Homo sapiens: one gene and its partner. The protein of the gene in region 1 interacts with the protein of each later gene in a pairwise test. Each region holds a gene or a part of one and is shown in the gene's direction. Other genes may lie near its edges.

The links. Proteins that work in one complex are often made in the same cells at the same time.
Region 2: the proteins of LCP2 (region 1) and MAP4K3 interact in binary tests that used the Homo sapiens proteins (3 or more experiments, as listed by UniProt).

The regions. Positions count from the first base shown.
Region 1 is NC_000005.10:170,252,115-170,260,678, reverse strand, and holds part of LCP2 (lymphocyte cytosolic protein 2), read left to right. Parts: intron 1-1,800; coding exon 1,801-1,813; intron 1,814-2,512; coding exon 2,513-2,642; intron 2,643-4,103; coding exon 4,104-4,153; intron 4,154-7,465; coding exon 7,466-7,560; intron 7,561-8,108; exon of another isoform or gene 8,109-8,167; coding exon 8,168-8,245; exon of another isoform or gene 8,246-8,564. UniProt on the Homo sapiens protein: Adapter protein primarily involved in signaling pathways within T-cells, as well as other immune cells such as platelets, mast cells, and natural killer (NK) cells.
Region 2 is NC_000002.12:39,321,765-39,330,328, reverse strand, and holds part of MAP4K3 (mitogen-activated protein kinase kinase kinase kinase 3), read left to right. Parts: intron 1-4,051; coding exon 4,052-4,183; intron 4,184-4,367; coding exon 4,368-4,430; intron 4,431-4,517; coding exon 4,518-4,599; intron 4,600-4,700; coding exon 4,701-4,811; intron 4,812-8,564. UniProt on the Homo sapiens protein: Serine/threonine kinase that plays a role in the response to environmental stress. Appears to act upstream of the JUN N-terminal pathway.

The DNA.
Region 1 (8,564 bases):
ATGCCAGTTAAATATGACCAGTTGTCCCTGTTTGCGAGGGATGCTGTCAGTTTTAGCACTGAAAAGTCCCCTGTCCCAAGAACTATCTCCATCCTAGGAAAACCAGGATAGTTGAGTATTTCTCGCTTTACATATGAGTATAATGAACCCATAAGGAAACATCTTTTCTCTTTTACGGAGAGGAAATTGAGGCTCAGAAGGAATAAGATACTCTTTGCAAATTGCATGCTTATAAAGAGCCAGGATCTGAACCCAGATCTGCTGAGTTTCTCTACACCATAAGCCCTCTGAAGGCCATCAGACCCCTGCTGTCATTCAAGGGCTCAGCCCAAAAGCGCCTGCTATTTTTGCAGCTCTGTGCTAGATGCTGTGCTTGTTCCGATGAAGTGCTGAGATCTTATGGAGGCAGGCACACTCACAACCCCTCATGCCAGACAGCATGCAATCACGGGATGCTCTGTGGGGCTGAGGGAAGAAAGTGTGCCATGTGGCTCAAGGAGCCAGCAGTGACTTCCTAGAGGAGGTGAGATTTATGCTGGTCATTCAATGATAGGGAGGACACAGAATAGAGTCATTCTTAAAGAAAGCCCATGGGGATTCCCCTCAGGAGTGTCCTGAGCAGGTGGATACCAGTGCCCACGGAGGCTGCAGGGACAGTGAGAACAGTGGCTTGGCTGCAGAGATAGGAACAAGGCAGAGGTAAGGCTGGACAGTGAGGATAACATCACATTCCAGGTTCCCTGTCTCTGGAAGGATTGACACTTGTGCTCATGAGAATCTGGGAGTTGTGTTTTCTGGAACCAGAGGGAATATACTTGCAAAAGTATTGAAAAGTGATTTTGTTGTGTGGGGTTTATGAGCCCATGTGTGTTTATTTATGCAGCTCTTTGCTGGGACTCCCAGTTGGCCAACTGGGATGAATGATTTTGACTGTGGCCTTTTTCGCCTTCTCTCAGTGTGTGATAGGATTGATGATGGCAAACTTTTATTAAAGAGCACTTAACATAAGCCAGACACAAGTAGTAGCTAATTTAATCCTTCTAACAACACTTTGAGAAAGATGCTGTTTCATCATTACAGATCTGGCCTAACCAAACAAGTTCAAGCTGGCCCTTTTGGTCTACTAGTTGGTGGCAACATCATTTTTTCTCTTTGAACCTCATTTCTTATCTGAGTGGAAGAGAAAATAGCCCCTCCCTTGTCTAATTTCCCAAGGTTGCTCTGAAGATAAAAATGGTGAGGGTTGTAGATGAACCTTGTAAGCCACCGTATAAATATGGTCTTATTGATCTTAAGAAGAGTGGCCATTGCAAAAGAGAGCCAAAAAGAAGACTGAGCTTTGGTCAGACATATTTGGGGTTGAATCCATCTCTGCAACTCCTGGCAAGCTAAGGAAGCTTCCTCAGCATCATGCTTTTGTAAAATGAGGATGTTAAATTTTTGGGGGGTCACTAGGGGAACTGAATGAAATCTTGTGTATGAATCTTTTGGACACATTGTAGATATTGTCAATATTATTACATCTTTGGGCCCTTTTAGGCACCTCAGAATCTATTTCATGCTGAGTATATGAGGAGAGTCTCATACTGGAATGCCCTTAGATGACTGTTTGTATTAAGAAATTGTAAAACACTTAGCAACTTCTATTATTCTCCACAGTATATTTATTATGAAGATGTATAACTGCCAGAGAAAGAAACAGATACCTATTTGATTTATTTGATTGAGAAATGCAGTTTTTATTTTAAGAATTGTATTTTGATGATAGCTTAATATCTTTTTTTTTCTTCCCCTTCCCAGGATGAAGATGATGGTATGTTCGGAAACACATTCTTACAGCCTATAACTCATTCTTTCATTTTCCTGCTCAGGCATTCAAGTGGAATTGTTTAGTACAGGAACCCCATAGAATCAATTATAAGTCTTAAATTAGTATTAAGTAGACTTATGTCAATTGGCATACTGCATAACTATCGTAAAATGGATTACTTGGTTAGATTACCGAAGAAGACTAAATTCATGTGTAACAGTGCAGATTATTTAATTGTATCACAAAATGTAAAATTGCATGCATGGTTTGATGGAAACATTTCTCACATTTATGTCTTCTAACACACGTGGGTAAAGAATCAGTAACTGCCAATGAATGAGATAGCATAAAATTTTGACTTTCATAAAACAAAACTTGTAAATCATTTCTGAAATTTATAAGGTTTCCAGCTGACAATTTTCTGCCAAGTTAACATTTCAAAAATGAAAAACAAAATCAATGTGTATTTTAGAGTATCATCTAGATCTGCGCCCCTTTGTAAATGGATTCTATGGTGGTTAAGTCATCTAGAAACACCCTGGGAGCAAGGTTCCATCCTACTACTTCCTAATTACATCTGATCTGCTTTATTTTTGTGTCCTCTTTATACTAGCTGTTTCTAACTGGGGGGCGGTTATGGAATGTTTCTTAGTGACAGCTGGGGCCTGCCAATCTCATTCATTGTTTTCTACTTCTGCACAGTGCATCAGAGACCTTTGCCCCAGCCAGCACTACTTCCTATGAGCTCCAACACTTTCCCTTCAAGATCTACTAAGCCAAGTCCCATGAACCCTCTCCCATCCTCTCACATGCCTGGAGCATTCTCAGAAAGGTTTGTAGCTCTGTCATGAAATTCTAGCTTAATATAATGTTTAGGTCCATCCAGTACTGAAGTAATGCCAGGCAGATTGAGAAAGAAGGAAATGACGGGTAGATAGTAGGGTCTGAACATTTTGGGTCTTAAGACATAAAACCAAACTGAGCATTAAGAACGATATGTTAATCCACCAGTGTCCTCTGAGTCTCTGCTTGAGGTGAGAGGGGTGAGGAATTGACTTCCTCCTTGATCCCTCCAGATAGAATGGGCCTTTTGGTAGAAAACAAAGAATATTTTCACTTTATGAGTTCAAACAAACAACAATAATTAAGAAACCCAGTTAGTCTAAGTACTTGAAGTTCATCTGCATCTTAGTTGGGGAGACTGAGAAAATGCGCCTCGTGCTTGGCTGATGCTAGGAATTCATTGCAGTCTCTGTCCCCCTGTTTTCTCAGTAGCAGCTGTGTTTCTCAGGGCTGGTATGAGGCCGCCCAGGGGCAGATGCATGAACAGGAGAAAGGCCCAGTCATTGTCCCCAAACAAGCCCACGGGCAGCCTGTGGTGTCCCCCAAGTCCTCCAGCCCTGTAGGCTTACCTTCTCCCTTAATATTCAAGGAGAGAAGCCAAGATCCTTCCCTAATATTGTAGAAAACTCAACCACCCACAAGACTCATCTACCCCCACCAACTCCTAGCAGGATTCTCACAATGTTTCCTCTGCCCTGGGACCCTCTGGCCCTGAGTTTCTGCTGCTCTTCTCCCTCTTCCCGCTGGCATCTGCTGCCCTTGTCTGCTGACCCTCCTGCTGCTTTCCTCCATGCTAGCCCCAACCCCATCCTTCATTTGCACAAAATCCCACTCACACAAGGTTGCTGTGCAGAGCAGACTTTTCCCAAAGGTTTAGACTGATGGGTGCAGGAGTTGCTGCTCAGTGTGGAGGGAACAGACTGCATTTCAGGGCCCTCTGGGCCCGCCTCCCCACCCCAGCCCTGCAAATGCTATCACCGTCTGCTGCAGAGCCCACCTAACATGCACTTCCCTTCTCACCTGGCTTACTCTCTCCTTGCAGACCCTAAGCCCTGGGGATTCACTGCTCACCAAAGACAAGCCCATTAATATAATTTCCTAGCAAAAGGGAAGTCTTCTGAGAAGAGGACTTCTGTATTCTCCCAACTCAAAGAGCTCAAGTTGCAGCCAATTTTTAAAGTAACTGTTAAGTGCCCTTTACACAGTTGAATGTTGTTGCTGTTCTGCTTTATAAAGCTTGTTAGACTTTGGCATGGTCCACAGCGGAATGTAGTTCCATTCCCTGTGTGCTGTGTTCTGTCCCTGTGCCCAGCCCCCATGGTTTTGGGGGCAGCAGGGAAAGTGATACCAAATCAAGAAGCATTTGCAGCCTGGCTTCCCTAACCCAGCTCCCCTGTCTGGCCCCATCACCCCAATCCAAATAAATTTTGTTCTTTTTCTGTCTCCTCAGTAACAGCAGTTTTCCACAGAGTGCCTCCCTGCCACCATACTTCTCTCAAGGTTTGTACTCTGGGCTTTTGTGACGTGCTTCAGCCATCAAGCCTTTATGACTGGATCCCTAACCTGTCCCAAAAGCTTTCGACAAAGGTTTTATTGTTTCCTAAAAGCATCTGATTTCCTCATTCAACATTTAATTCCGTGTCTGCAGTGTGCCAAGGGCTGTCGGAATGATAGGATAGTACCTAAAACACAACACATACACACACACGTATACATATACATGCCCATACACACATGCACATATACATGCACACACACACATGCATACACATGTACACATATATACATGTGCACACAGGTATACACATATATACACATACACAATACATGCACACACATGCACATGCATACACACATACATACATGGACACACCTACACACACTTCACCAGGAAGCCAGCCCTCATCCCCAATCTTCCTGTGCAGAACTATTCCTCCAGCTCCGGTTTCCCTACGGAATCCTCAGAATCCTGTTTGCCTTTCTCTGCAGTTTTAGATTTCCATGATCAATCTGTCCATGGTTGTGAGTTGGGGAGCATGTTCAAAATACAAACTAAGAGAACTTAACGTCACAGATTCTGATTCAGTAAGTCCGGAGTGAAGTCAGGGACCTGTGTTTTTAATAATACCACCTCTGGACGTCCATGATTAGTATTCGCTTAGAGTGTTCTGCAACTTGAAAGTGCATATAGATCACCTGGGAATTGTGTTAACATGCAGATTCTAATTCAGGAGGTCTGGGGTGAGGCCTGAGTTTCTGAATTTCTAACATATTCCATGCGATGCTGTGACTGCTGGTTCATGAACCACTTTGAAAGGCACTGGGGCAGGACTAATTTGTGCTTTTTATCCTTAAAGACTTGCAAGTGACAGGCACTTGGTAGGCACTTTAAAAATGCTTGTCGAATGAGCATCAAATGACTAGGGAAAGTTACCCAACTCTAGTAAGTAGCATTCCAGGAAACTGGCTTAGCATTGCCAGATTTTCCAATTTTTTTCTCAAGAAAAGTGAAATTATTTAATTTTTAAATGTTGACTTAAATTTTTAAAAAATGCTGTGAAGAATGACAACAGAAAAGCCACTTTTTTTGCAGTCATGTTCCACATGCAGTGTGTGCACGGGCCAGTGTGTGTTCAGTAGAAAACTATGTTAGTAAATGTGAGTTGATAGCCTGAGAATCAACATTTTTTCCAAGAACACATCTAGGGTATTCAGTTGGATGCATCATTCCATAGAGGGGCGAGATCCCACTGCTGACGCCAGTGGCACCCACTAAGTTTTCAATGTTTTCTAAGCATTTGAGGTTATGGTGGTGTCCACGTTCACCACATGGTTTTCACAGTTTCTCGCCCAACCCCTAATTTTCCACAATCCCCAAAATTCTCTGTGTTTTGCAAACACACATTTGTGTTACCTCCTTGCCTCTGTAGCCATCTGAGTCCCAGACACATCACAGCATTATTTTCCAAAGCAAGTTCCACAGATCTCCAGTTTTATGAGTCTGTGATGGGGCTTATTAATGCAAATAGTTAATTATTTTTGGAACATTAGCTTGATCCAAATTGATCTCTTTTCCCCTAAGACTGCCAGGACACCTGGTCCTCGGTCTTCTCTACTGGTTCTACTGGTTGTTCCAACATCAGAAGGATAAAGTTTGTGCTGTGCATTGCCCAAAAACCTGTCATGACTCCCTTGAGAGTCTAGATATTAAGGGTGGTAGGTGACTGCAATAAAAAAGTGTATGTGCTTCTCTGTTGTAACTTAGAACTCTATGATGCTGGCCTGCAGGTGCAGAGGCAGAAAGAGAATCATTTCTTAACTGTAGAATGGCCATGCAATGCGGGCCTTGGTTCTGTTACTCTCCTGTATTGTTAGGTTTCATTCATTCAACAAGCATTATAAAAGTGCAAGTGTTGGACTGCAAAAAAAATGGGGATGGGGAAGATCTGTCTAGGCACTGGGAACTTGGAGAAGGAAGGCACTGGCAGCTCAGGGCCAGCTTGTTTAGAAACAGGGAAGGAGCATCTTAAACAATCCTGTTGATGTGGCTCAGGAGACTTGTTTAAAAACAGGGAAGGACCATCATAAATAATCTTGATGATGCGGCTCAGGAGGCTTTAGCCCTTACAGGTGACTCTCCTCTCCTCAGTGGTGTAACAAGGTAGACGTAGTGACAATCCGTGGTGTAGAACCACCGGAAGTACTTGCTAACATGCAGATTTCTGAGCCCCAGGTGCTCGCAAGTCGCCCAGGGATTCTGACTCATGCACAGTAGCATTTGGTAACCACAGGTTTAAGTTTTGGCTTTGCCACTGATAGCGCATGATTTGCTTAGCCTCTGAGCCTGTATTTCCCCATATGCAAAATGAAGACAATACCTACCTTGTAATGTTGCTGTGAGGATTAAAAAAAATGTACACACGATACCTTACTCAAGATCTGGACAGAGTTGTGCTGAATAAATATTTGTTGAAGGTATGAATGAATGATGGTTAAATAATTAAGAGAACATTTGACTCACAGAATTTTTCTGTTTTTAACCACAGCCTGGCACATAGAAAATACCCTGGGCAACTGCAATAAACACAACTAAACCTTTCCTGAGATTAGGAAACATTCTCCTAAAGTTTCAAGGAACTGTAAATGAGAAAAAAGAGTTTTAGAGAAGATGAGGCACAAGCACTGGGTAATTAATAGTTGCCCAGTAAAAACTTCCTGATCTGTAGTGCCTTCTATGTGAGTTGAACAGTCTACCTGTTTAGTTAGAACAGCGGGTAGCCAACTTTGATTCTAAAAGCTAGCAATATTCTCAAGGTAATTTTGTCTTCTCTTGGGTCACTTACATTTCTTTTTGTGGAAACATTAAGAACATAATTATCTTCATCATTGCATTGTCCCTACATCAGCTGTTGGGAATCCATTCTGCCTATGATGATATTATAAGAATCTATGAAAAATTTGTCTCTTGAGCATTCATTTTGACGTTCACATTCATTAAAACAATTGCGAATTTTTTTATAAAGGGATCTAGTCACTTTATATTATGTAACATGCACATTTAGAAAAATCACTCAAAGTTGAGGTTCTCTTCTCAAAGTTTTACTGGCATGATTACAGAATAATGCCTGAGCAGCCCCCATGGTTTCAAACAGATGAAAATTATTTTTGAAGCCCTTGTTTCTTAAAATGCGAACTATAGGACCAATCGCAAGGGTATTTTTTTGGGGGAGTGGGGGGAATGTGTTTTGTGTTTTGATAGCAGCAAACAATAGCTTACAGTAAATTAACTGTCAGAATTCTATACTTTTGAAGGCCCTAGCAACAGACCACCTATCAGAGCCGAAGGCAGAAACTTCCCCTTGCCACTTCCAAACAAACCTCGGCCCCCATCCCCCGCGGAGGAAGAGGTAAGAGAGCATGTTTTTATTTTTGTTTGTTTGCCTTTTCCCTGGTAAAAGAATCACCAGAAACTCCCATTGAATGTTCTTCTGTACTTTTATCTTCCCTTTGTTTTATTTTATTTATTTGAAAAAAAAGTTAAAGGAGAAGATCCAGATGAACAATATGTTCTTTTCCCTTGGCGTTCTTTCAGACGCTTTCAATGGCAAACATGTGTTTTGCATTAAACAGCAAGAAAAATAATCCTGTTTTTTATGTTTATGACCTTGATTCGTCACTTAACTGCTCAATAACCCATTTTTTTAATCAAGCAGGTTATTATGCTAAACTGAAGAAATTATTGTATCTGTATCTTTCCTGAAGAGGTTCCATACTGTAAGGAACTCTTATTCACAGGCATTTTTGCAACCAGTGTCATGATAAAAAGCAGTTCGCACAAAATATCTTCTATTTAGCCCCAGCTAAATGACTCTGAATGCAAATTAAGAAAACAAATGTTTCAGACCTCCTGGAATTGAGGTGTTGATTTATGGAAATGATTACTCAGAGGCTTTTCTTTTCACTTACATCTGTAACTGTAAAATTTATTCAGTTTCTAAAAATTTACATTTTCAGAATTCATTAAATGAAGAGTGGTACGTTTCTTATATTACCCGACCAGAGGCAGAAGCTGCTCTTAGAAAGATAAACCAGGTATTGTGCTATAGTTTATTTTAACATAGTTGTAAATATTAATGGCAGAGAAGGGAACTGACCTGTCCTGAGTACCAATTACAGGCTAGGAATTCTGCTAGGTGCTGTTGCTTTCTGTAATACCTAGGAGACCCATTAGTGCCAGCTTCACAACTACCAGCACCCATAGCAGGGATTCCTAGGCTCGGGAATCATTAGGCTGGCAGAAGAATCTCAAGGCAGTCATTTGGTTGGCAGCATCTTAGGAGATTTTATTAATGAAAGAGTCTGTCTTGTCATAGGAATCACATGGTGTCAGAAGGAGACTCTCTTTCAAAGT
Region 2 (8,564 bases), on another chromosome or scaffold:
CTAGTGTCTTCTGTGGTGCCCATGGTGTGATACCATTATCTATGATCTATTGAATGTAACTCCTCCCCCTAGAATCATTCCTGGTGTTTTGATATTCCATAATTATATACCTCAAAAAATATTTTTTTATTGTTTTTACTTTTATTCATTGTACTTGGCATTTGTGCTTTATAATCCAAAGACTCATGTCTTTTCAGTTTTGGGAAGTACTCTTGTGTCATTTCTTTGATAATTTCTTTGCTGTACTTTTTCCTGCTCTCTATGGAACTCACTGGTTGTATCTTGGACCACTTAAATTAATCTATTAATTTTCTTATATTTTCTCTAAGAACAAAAAAATCTTTTTTGTTCTACTTATAAGAGTTCCTCAACTCTCTACATTCATATTTTCATGATGGAGCCTTCCCTCAAATGTCCACTAATCCTTACATTTTGGTTCACTTTGAAGAGCATGGCACTAAAAACTGGTTCATAACTCTTTTTGTTTGGGAAGTCGGGTGTAAACCTGGTTGTTATGTTCTAGAACTGGTCAAGTGAAGGAAGCAGAGATGTTCATTGTTCTATATACGTACTTCTACTTAATCATGTCCTCTCCCTTTAACCTCTTCACTCCTTGGTTCCTGGTGTCTCTTGAGTCTGCAGTCTCTCTTCTTCGTCTTGGTCCTTATCCAGTGGGAATTGGGGGGCAATAGTTGCTGGGGCTTAATGGATAAGAGTAGGAATGCCAGGGACTGACTGTTGACACTTTCTAATACTCCTGTTTCCAGCCCAACCTCAACCCTACTATTGCTACTTTTTAAACCTAGCTTGTCAACATTTCCAGGGTATTTGAGGCTCATTGGCTGCTAGTTGTTGTTCTTTTCCTTGGCACCTGCTTAGGTTTGCCCTGCCTCCTGTTTGCTACATCATTTACTATTCTTCTGTTTTTAGTCTGTGTGTTATGGTTTTAGTTAAAATATGTCTGCTGGACTTTTCAAAGATGGTATGTGTATATATTTCTCTTTGTTCTTCTCTTTATTGTTTTGGGTTGAGCAGAGTGAGGGCTTGAATTGCTGTCATTTTTAAGTACACTGTCTTCTCAGTTTTATTGTAAACATCTCATTAAATCTTCAGGATCTGACTTGATTCTATACAATATTCATTCACTGAATGTTAATGATGAAATTTCCAACTCCAGTTTCACAGGTTAAAAATTTATGTCATTACTCTTGGAATAATGTGGGAAATATCTTGGGAACATGTGAAATTGTGAATTAGGTAAAGTTAATTTTGGGAACACTCTCCCTGTATCTGTCTTTCTGGTATTATATCTTTCCTACCTAAAATCTAAAACTTTAGAACCTCTCTCTTCCCAAGTGATTAGATCGGCAGTTATTCAGTTGTTCGAAAAAGTCTGCTTGAAATGACAGTTCTCAAAATTAAACACATATGTACCTTAAACATTTTATTTCAATTTAAGACATATATGTACATTTATTCAACAGTCTTTTGATATAGAATCAAGGCCTTTTCTTAGAGTAGATCACTTACTAGAGTTCCATTTTAGTAATGCAAACCACACACACCCCAATGCATCAACTACATTTCTTAGTCAGGTTTATTGAGGCATAAATTTACCCTTATTAGGTGTACAGTTGTGCAAATTCATACAGTTGTATGAATGTTGAAAAACTTGTATGCTGTGGTGGTAAGAAACCACCAGAACACATTGACACTATCCAAAAAATCTTTTATTTTGCCCCTTTTTAGTAAATGCTCTACCTCCATCCGTAGCATCTGGTAACCCCTGATCTGATTTCTGTCTCTATATTTGTGCCTTTTTCTTGAGTGGCATAGAAATGGAATCATATAATCTGTAGCCTTCCCAGTTTTCTGCCATTGTCATGTTCTTATCTAACGTACCAGGTTTTTTGGCTCATCTTTAGAAATTTGCCTTTCTAAAAGCGAAGTCTTTCTAAAGCATTCACTAATTTTTGTTTGTTTTTGTTTTTGGTTTTTGAGATGGGGTCTCACTCTGTCACCCAGGCTGAAGTGCAGTCGTGTGATCTCAGCTCACTGCAACCTCTACTTCCCAGGCTCAAGCGATCGTCCCACCTCAGCCTCCCAAGTAACTAGAACCACAGGCATGCGCCACCATGCCCAGCTAATTTTTGCATTTTTGGTAGAGACGGGGTTTTGCCATGTTGCCCAGGCTGGTCTCAAACTCCTGAGCTCAAACCATCCACCTGCCTCGGCCTCCCAAAGTGCTAGGATTACAGGCGTGAGCCACTGCTCCCGGCCAGCATTCGCTAACTTTTAAACCTTCATTATAACTATGTGTTTACAATAGCAAATGTAACTGGAATAAACAGTTTCAGAGATGAACCCAGTTGACTGTGATAAGCACACAACTTAGCTGGCTGGAGTAGACATGTACTAAGTGTAATGTTTCCCTTGTATTTACATAGAAGAAGGGAGAGCATCAGCTAATGTGGTGAACTAGTAAGGGGAGGCAAGTTAGGAGCGTATCACTTGCATGCATTTCCCACTCCACTAGGGCATTTCTACCAGCTACTTGGAATCTAGTCATCATAAAAGTAATAACTGACACTTTGAAATTCGCTTTTCTTATAGTAATTTAAATTTTCATAAGATCTGTTTCAGATTTAAAAGATTTTAAGACCAGGGGTTTTGAAAGTTAGAGGGTTTTTTGTTTTTGACTTTACTGACTTACTTGACCTTCCTGAAATCATACCAGGAAGATAAATGTGTATTTGTAAGATTATCTAGACTGCTCTTTAGTATGGAAGAGTTGAGATGTTTATTTCAATTAGTTGCTTTTAAAAATATTGTTTAGGATTTGAAAATTTTTGTATTTGATAATTAATAGTTTAAATCAGTCAAATTCAAATTTATGGAAGTATAATTAGAATAAGACTGTAGCAAAGTAAAGAGAAACAAAAAAATTACTGAATTTGGGTAACTTTCCTCTGAATAAATACATTTTTTAAAAGTAGACACTTGTTTTTATAACTTTTCCATTATTATAATAGAACTAGAAAAAATGCCAAATAAGTTTTTAGTAAATATGAATTAAATACTAAATATGAAGATTATTGGTGCCCGACGGAATAGTTTTGGTGAAGTAAAAACAGGGATTGCCTGGTCGCAGTTTTTTGATAACAGGAAGTAGAGCTATAGGTTGCTTATTACGAATATTATTTATTGAATTTTGCATGTACAGAGAGATTGGGAGCATGAATGATTTTGGACGTGTTGGTCTATTAGAATTGTATATTTTTATAAACCTTTTTAGTAACTAGTATAAGGAAGTAACAATGGAATCAGCAATAGGGGACTGAAGTGCAGAGTCTTTTTTAAAATTTATAAACAAAGGTTTGATTGACTCACAGTATTGTATTGCATGGCTGGGGAGGCCTCAGAAAACTTACAATCATGGAGTAAGGCAAAAAAGCGGGCACCTTCTTCACAAGGTGGCAGGAGAGAGCACTCGGGAAACGGCCACTTTTAAAACCATCAGACCTTGTGAGAACCTGCTCACTATCATGAGAAAAGCATAGGGGAAACTGACCCAATGATCCAATCACCTCCTACGAGGCCCCTCCCTCAACACATGGGGATTACAGTTCGAGATGAGATTTGGGTGGGGACACAGAGCCAAACCATATCATTCTGCCCCTGCCCACCCCCCAAATTGCAGGTCCTTTTTACATTTCAAAACCAGTCATGCCTTCCCAACAGTCCCCCAAAGTCTTAACTCATTCCAGCATTAACCCAGAAGTCCAAATCCAAAGTCTCGTCTGAGGCAAGGCAAGGCAAGTCCCTTCCACCTATAAGCCTGTATAATCAAAAGCAAGTTACTAATGAGGGTCTTATGAGATGTCAAGATCTTGGAAAAGGTGGACCTTTTAAGTACTGCATATTTATTTTTCAAAAACCAAGGCCTAAAGAGGCCTTAATTTAGATAGTGATAATTCCTTGTGCCTCTGGGTGGGAGTATAAAGGAAAACATATAACAGAAGTTTTTTATTTTCTGGAATATTTATTTCAGGATGGCTCCAGAAGTTGCAGCTGTTGAGAGGAAGGGGGGTTACAATCAACTCTGTGATCTCTGGGCAGTGGGAATCACTGCCATAGAACTTGCAGAGCTTCAGCCTCCTATGTTTGACTTACACCCAATGAGGTCAGTGCATCATCATTGAAGAATCTTACGCTTAAGGTTTTTATCCTCTTAGTATGCTGTCATGAACAAGTAATTTTCTTAGTCTTGTTTTACCTTATTTGGGGAACAAATAGTAATAGAATTTGTGTAATAGATAAAAATGTGAAATATTAAAATGCTGTGTAATGATTTGTTGATTTTTCAGAGCATTATTTCTAATGACAAAAAGCAATTTTCAGCCTCCTAAACTAAAGGATAAAATGAAATGGTAAGTATTTTTATGTTATTTACTTTTATGGTGAGATGAGCAAAAAATGAATTGGAATGTAAAAGTCTAATTTTCTAAATTTCTTAGGTCAAATAGTTTTCATCACTTTGTGAAAATGGCACTTACCAAAAATCCGAAAAAAAGACCTACTGCTGAAAAATTATTACAGGTATTATTTTTGCCCTGAAATATATATATATATTTCAAAAGATAAAATGTTATTCAATCAGATTTATAGTAAGTGTTCTGCATTGTATTTAATTTTTATAGCATCCTTTTGTAACACAACATTTGACACGGTCTTTGGCAATCGAGCTGTTGGATAAAGTAAATAATCCAGATCATTCCACTTACCATGATTTCGATGATGATGATCCTGAGGTAGGAATTGCTTTTACCAGCGGGCATATATAACATGTATATGTGTATGTATATATGTGTGTCTGTATGTACGTCTCAAAATCCATTTTTTTAATTTTGGGGCCTAGTTTAAATAAAAAAGCTCTTGAGGGAACAATTAATTCTTTGTCTTTGCCTTTCATGGAAAGTCAAATGCTAGGTTTTTCTTACTGACTACTTATAGGTGACTATAGTGTGAAAATGGCAAAGGCATATCATTTAATCCACTTGTTGAAATCACTGTAGTTATTTCAAAATAGCCATTTTTGGTGAAGTTGCCAAATAATCATTCACTGTAAAAGGGAAAGCAAATGGGAAGTGCCTAAACAAGACATTTGAATATTCAAAATTTCCCCTCAGTTTGCTTCTCAAAAAGAATCCTCAGTTTGGCCTGGTGGCTCATGTCTGTAATCCCATCACTTTGGGAGGCTGAAGCAAGAGGATTACTTGAGGCCAGGAGTTTGAAACCTGCCTGGTCAACATAGCAAGACCCCGTTTCTATCTTTAAAAAAAAATTCTTATATAATACTTCATAAATTATTAGAGGTTAGTAGGAAGTATAGGCTTGACTTTGCCAGTGACTAAAACTCAGCTATTCACTATGGAAATGTTTTAAAATGAGCCAGTATAGTTGTTAATAAAATAATTCTAATATGACAGAAGCATTGATATTAATGGAAGCTTCACTTCTGTTTGCATATGTAACATTCCTAGCACTGCTAATAGTTGTGGCAACCAAGATAAATTCAGTATATGTGACATGGCAGAATTCTGTTATTGGGTCTGTAACAGAAGTGGATAGGCTTTAACTCTACTGGCTTTATGGGAGGCCCTTAAAAATATTGTAAATTTCATTAATGACTGAAGGTGAAGTGTTTAGAAAGACGGCCACAGATTGTCTTAAGTCAGAGAGAACCTTTCTATCAATTCAGCATTGTCCCAGCTTGCCATCTTATGATAGATAAGCTATTTGTCCTTTTGTTTAAGGGTCTGGAAAAGAGTTTGGAGCTTAAAAATGTAAGGAATGTAAAGTATAATTAATCTTATAATTATACTCTGAAGAAGTTTTTTTTGTTTTGTTTTTGTTTTTTTTTGAGATGAGTCTTACTCTATTACCCAGGCTGGAGTGCAATGGCATGCTCTCAGCTCACTGCAGCCTCTGCCTCCTGGGTTCAAACGATTCTCCTGCCTCAGCCTCCTGAGTAGCTGGGATTACAGGAGCCCACCACCATGCCCAGCTAATTTTTGTATTTTTAGTAGAGATGGGGTTTTACCACATTGGCCAGGTTGGTCTCGAACTCCTGACCTTGTGATCTGCCTGCCTCGGCCTCCCAAATGCTGGGATTACAGGCATGAGCCACCGCACCTGGCCTGAAGAAGTTTTTTGGTGTTGATTTGCTTAATTTTATTTTTAAGAAAGTTAAGTTTTACAAACTCTTCTAGTCTTATTTAGTATACAGGCAGTCCTTGATGTGCATGGTAGTATGGGACTGTAAAAATGACTGCATAAGCTAAAATTCTGCAAAGTAATCTTAATAATCAGGAAAAATTATAATTGTTTCATGACTTTTAAAATTTTTTGTTAAAGCATAAACTCTGTTACTGTCAGTTGTAATTGTAGAAATGTGAAAAAATAGTAAAACTATTATTTACAGTGTATTATAAATATTAGAATCATCGAGAGTTAATGTGTTTCATTTCTTTGTTAATGAACTTTTCATGCACTTTTTTTACTTATCTAGTAGTCTGCTTATTGAGTAGTTTGCCTTTTCATCATGTGTCTGTGACACAGAGCAAGTATCTTTTCTATGCCTTGGCAAATTGTCATATTGCTTTCTAATTTTCTTTCTAATCATGATCATGATGTGCATCTGTTATTTACGTAGTAATTTGTGAACTGAAAGGCTACCAATAAAGTTTATACTTTATGCAATTTCAATTAATATACAGTGGTAACTGTTATTTGAACCATGATGTAGGGAACTAGTGTTATTTAACTAAATTATGGTAACTGAAATTGGTGCATAACAAAGCTGTAAAACAAGGACTGCCTATATCCTTTTCAGTGCACTAAATGCTACATGATTGTTTCTTACCTCACCCTATGTACTTGTCATGTCTTTTTAAAAATGTACTCAAAGAACAGAAATAATAAACCAAATAGAGAAGCAATCTGTGGAATGAAGATTCTTCTAAAACTTTCTCATATAGCAGGGAAAGAAACTCATCTTTCTTATCCAGACATTGTTTTGGTATTATAATTATAAATTGTTACAAATCTCTATGGTAAGTAGGTAAAATAAAGGAATTTAATTATTCCAGGGGTAGGATGAGGGGAAGCTGTTACATTCCCTCTCACAGTAGCTTAGAATAATGTTTTTCTTAAGAGAAATTCATAACTTTTTTATTTGCAAATGATTTGTAATTGTAATTGCTAAGTGCAGTGTTGTCACTCAAAATACGAATGTATCTAAGAATTTCAGCACTTACTGTGATACTAGAACTATTGTATGCATACTCTTAAAAATAAGGGTGGGCTCAGTGGCTTATGCCTGTAATCCCAGCACTCTGGAAGACCGAGGCAGGTGGATCACCTGAGGTCAGGAGTTTGGGACCAGCTTGGCTAACATGGTGAAACCCCGTCTCTACTAAAAATACAAAAATTAGCCGGGCATGGTGGCTCATGCGTGTAATCCCAGCTATTCAGGGGGCTGTGGCAAGAGAATTGCTTGAACCTGGGAGGCAGAGGTTATAGTGAGCCAAGATCATGCGACTGCACTCCAGCCTGGGCAACAGAGCGAGACTCCATCTCAAAAAAAAAAAACAAAAAATAGAAAAAGAAAAATATATATATATGTGTATTTATCTATATATACATATATACACACACACACACACACACACACATATACCACATCTAAGTCTAGTTTAAGTTTTTTATAGGTTATGCACTGTGGAAGAAAGTTTGACTTTTTAATGTTGAGTTCCCCTGTAGTTTCTATTTTAGAAGTAATTACACACTGGTGTAATTCTAATTCTGATTTTTATTCAGTTTTCGTCTCCTATATGTAAGCCCACTTACTATGTACAGCATTATAAGATTTAACAATTTTATTAATCTGTTATGCTAATAAATTAATAATTTATTGTGCTGTTTAAGCCGGGAAGGTAAAACTGTTCTCAGAAATAATCATGAGTTTCATCCATGTTCATTAATAACAGTCTGTATGAGTAACCTGCATGTTACCTGTTTTTGTTTGGTTTTGCTACTGTATATTAGATCAAAAGTCTAGGGTTTTTCCTAGCTCTATGGCTAGCTAGCTGAATGCCCTGCCACTTAATTTTAAGTCTCAGTATCCTCATCTATGAAATTGAAGGGGTGGGTTGCCCCTCCACACCTGTGGGTGTTTCTCGTTAGGTGGAAGGAGAGACTTGGAAAAGAAAGACACAGAGACAAAGTATAGAGAAAGAAATAAGGGGACCCAGGGGACCAGCGTTCAACATATGGAGGATCCCGCCAGCCTCTGAGTTCCCTTAGTATTTATTGATCATTTGTGGGTGTTTCCCCGAGAGGGGGATGTGTCAGGGTCACAAGACAATAGTGGGGAGAGGGTCAGCAGACAAACACGTGAACAGTGGTCTTTGCATCATAGACAAGGTAAAAGAATCAAGTGCTGTGCTTTTAGATATGCATACACATAAACATCTCAATGCTTTACAAACCAGTATTGTTGC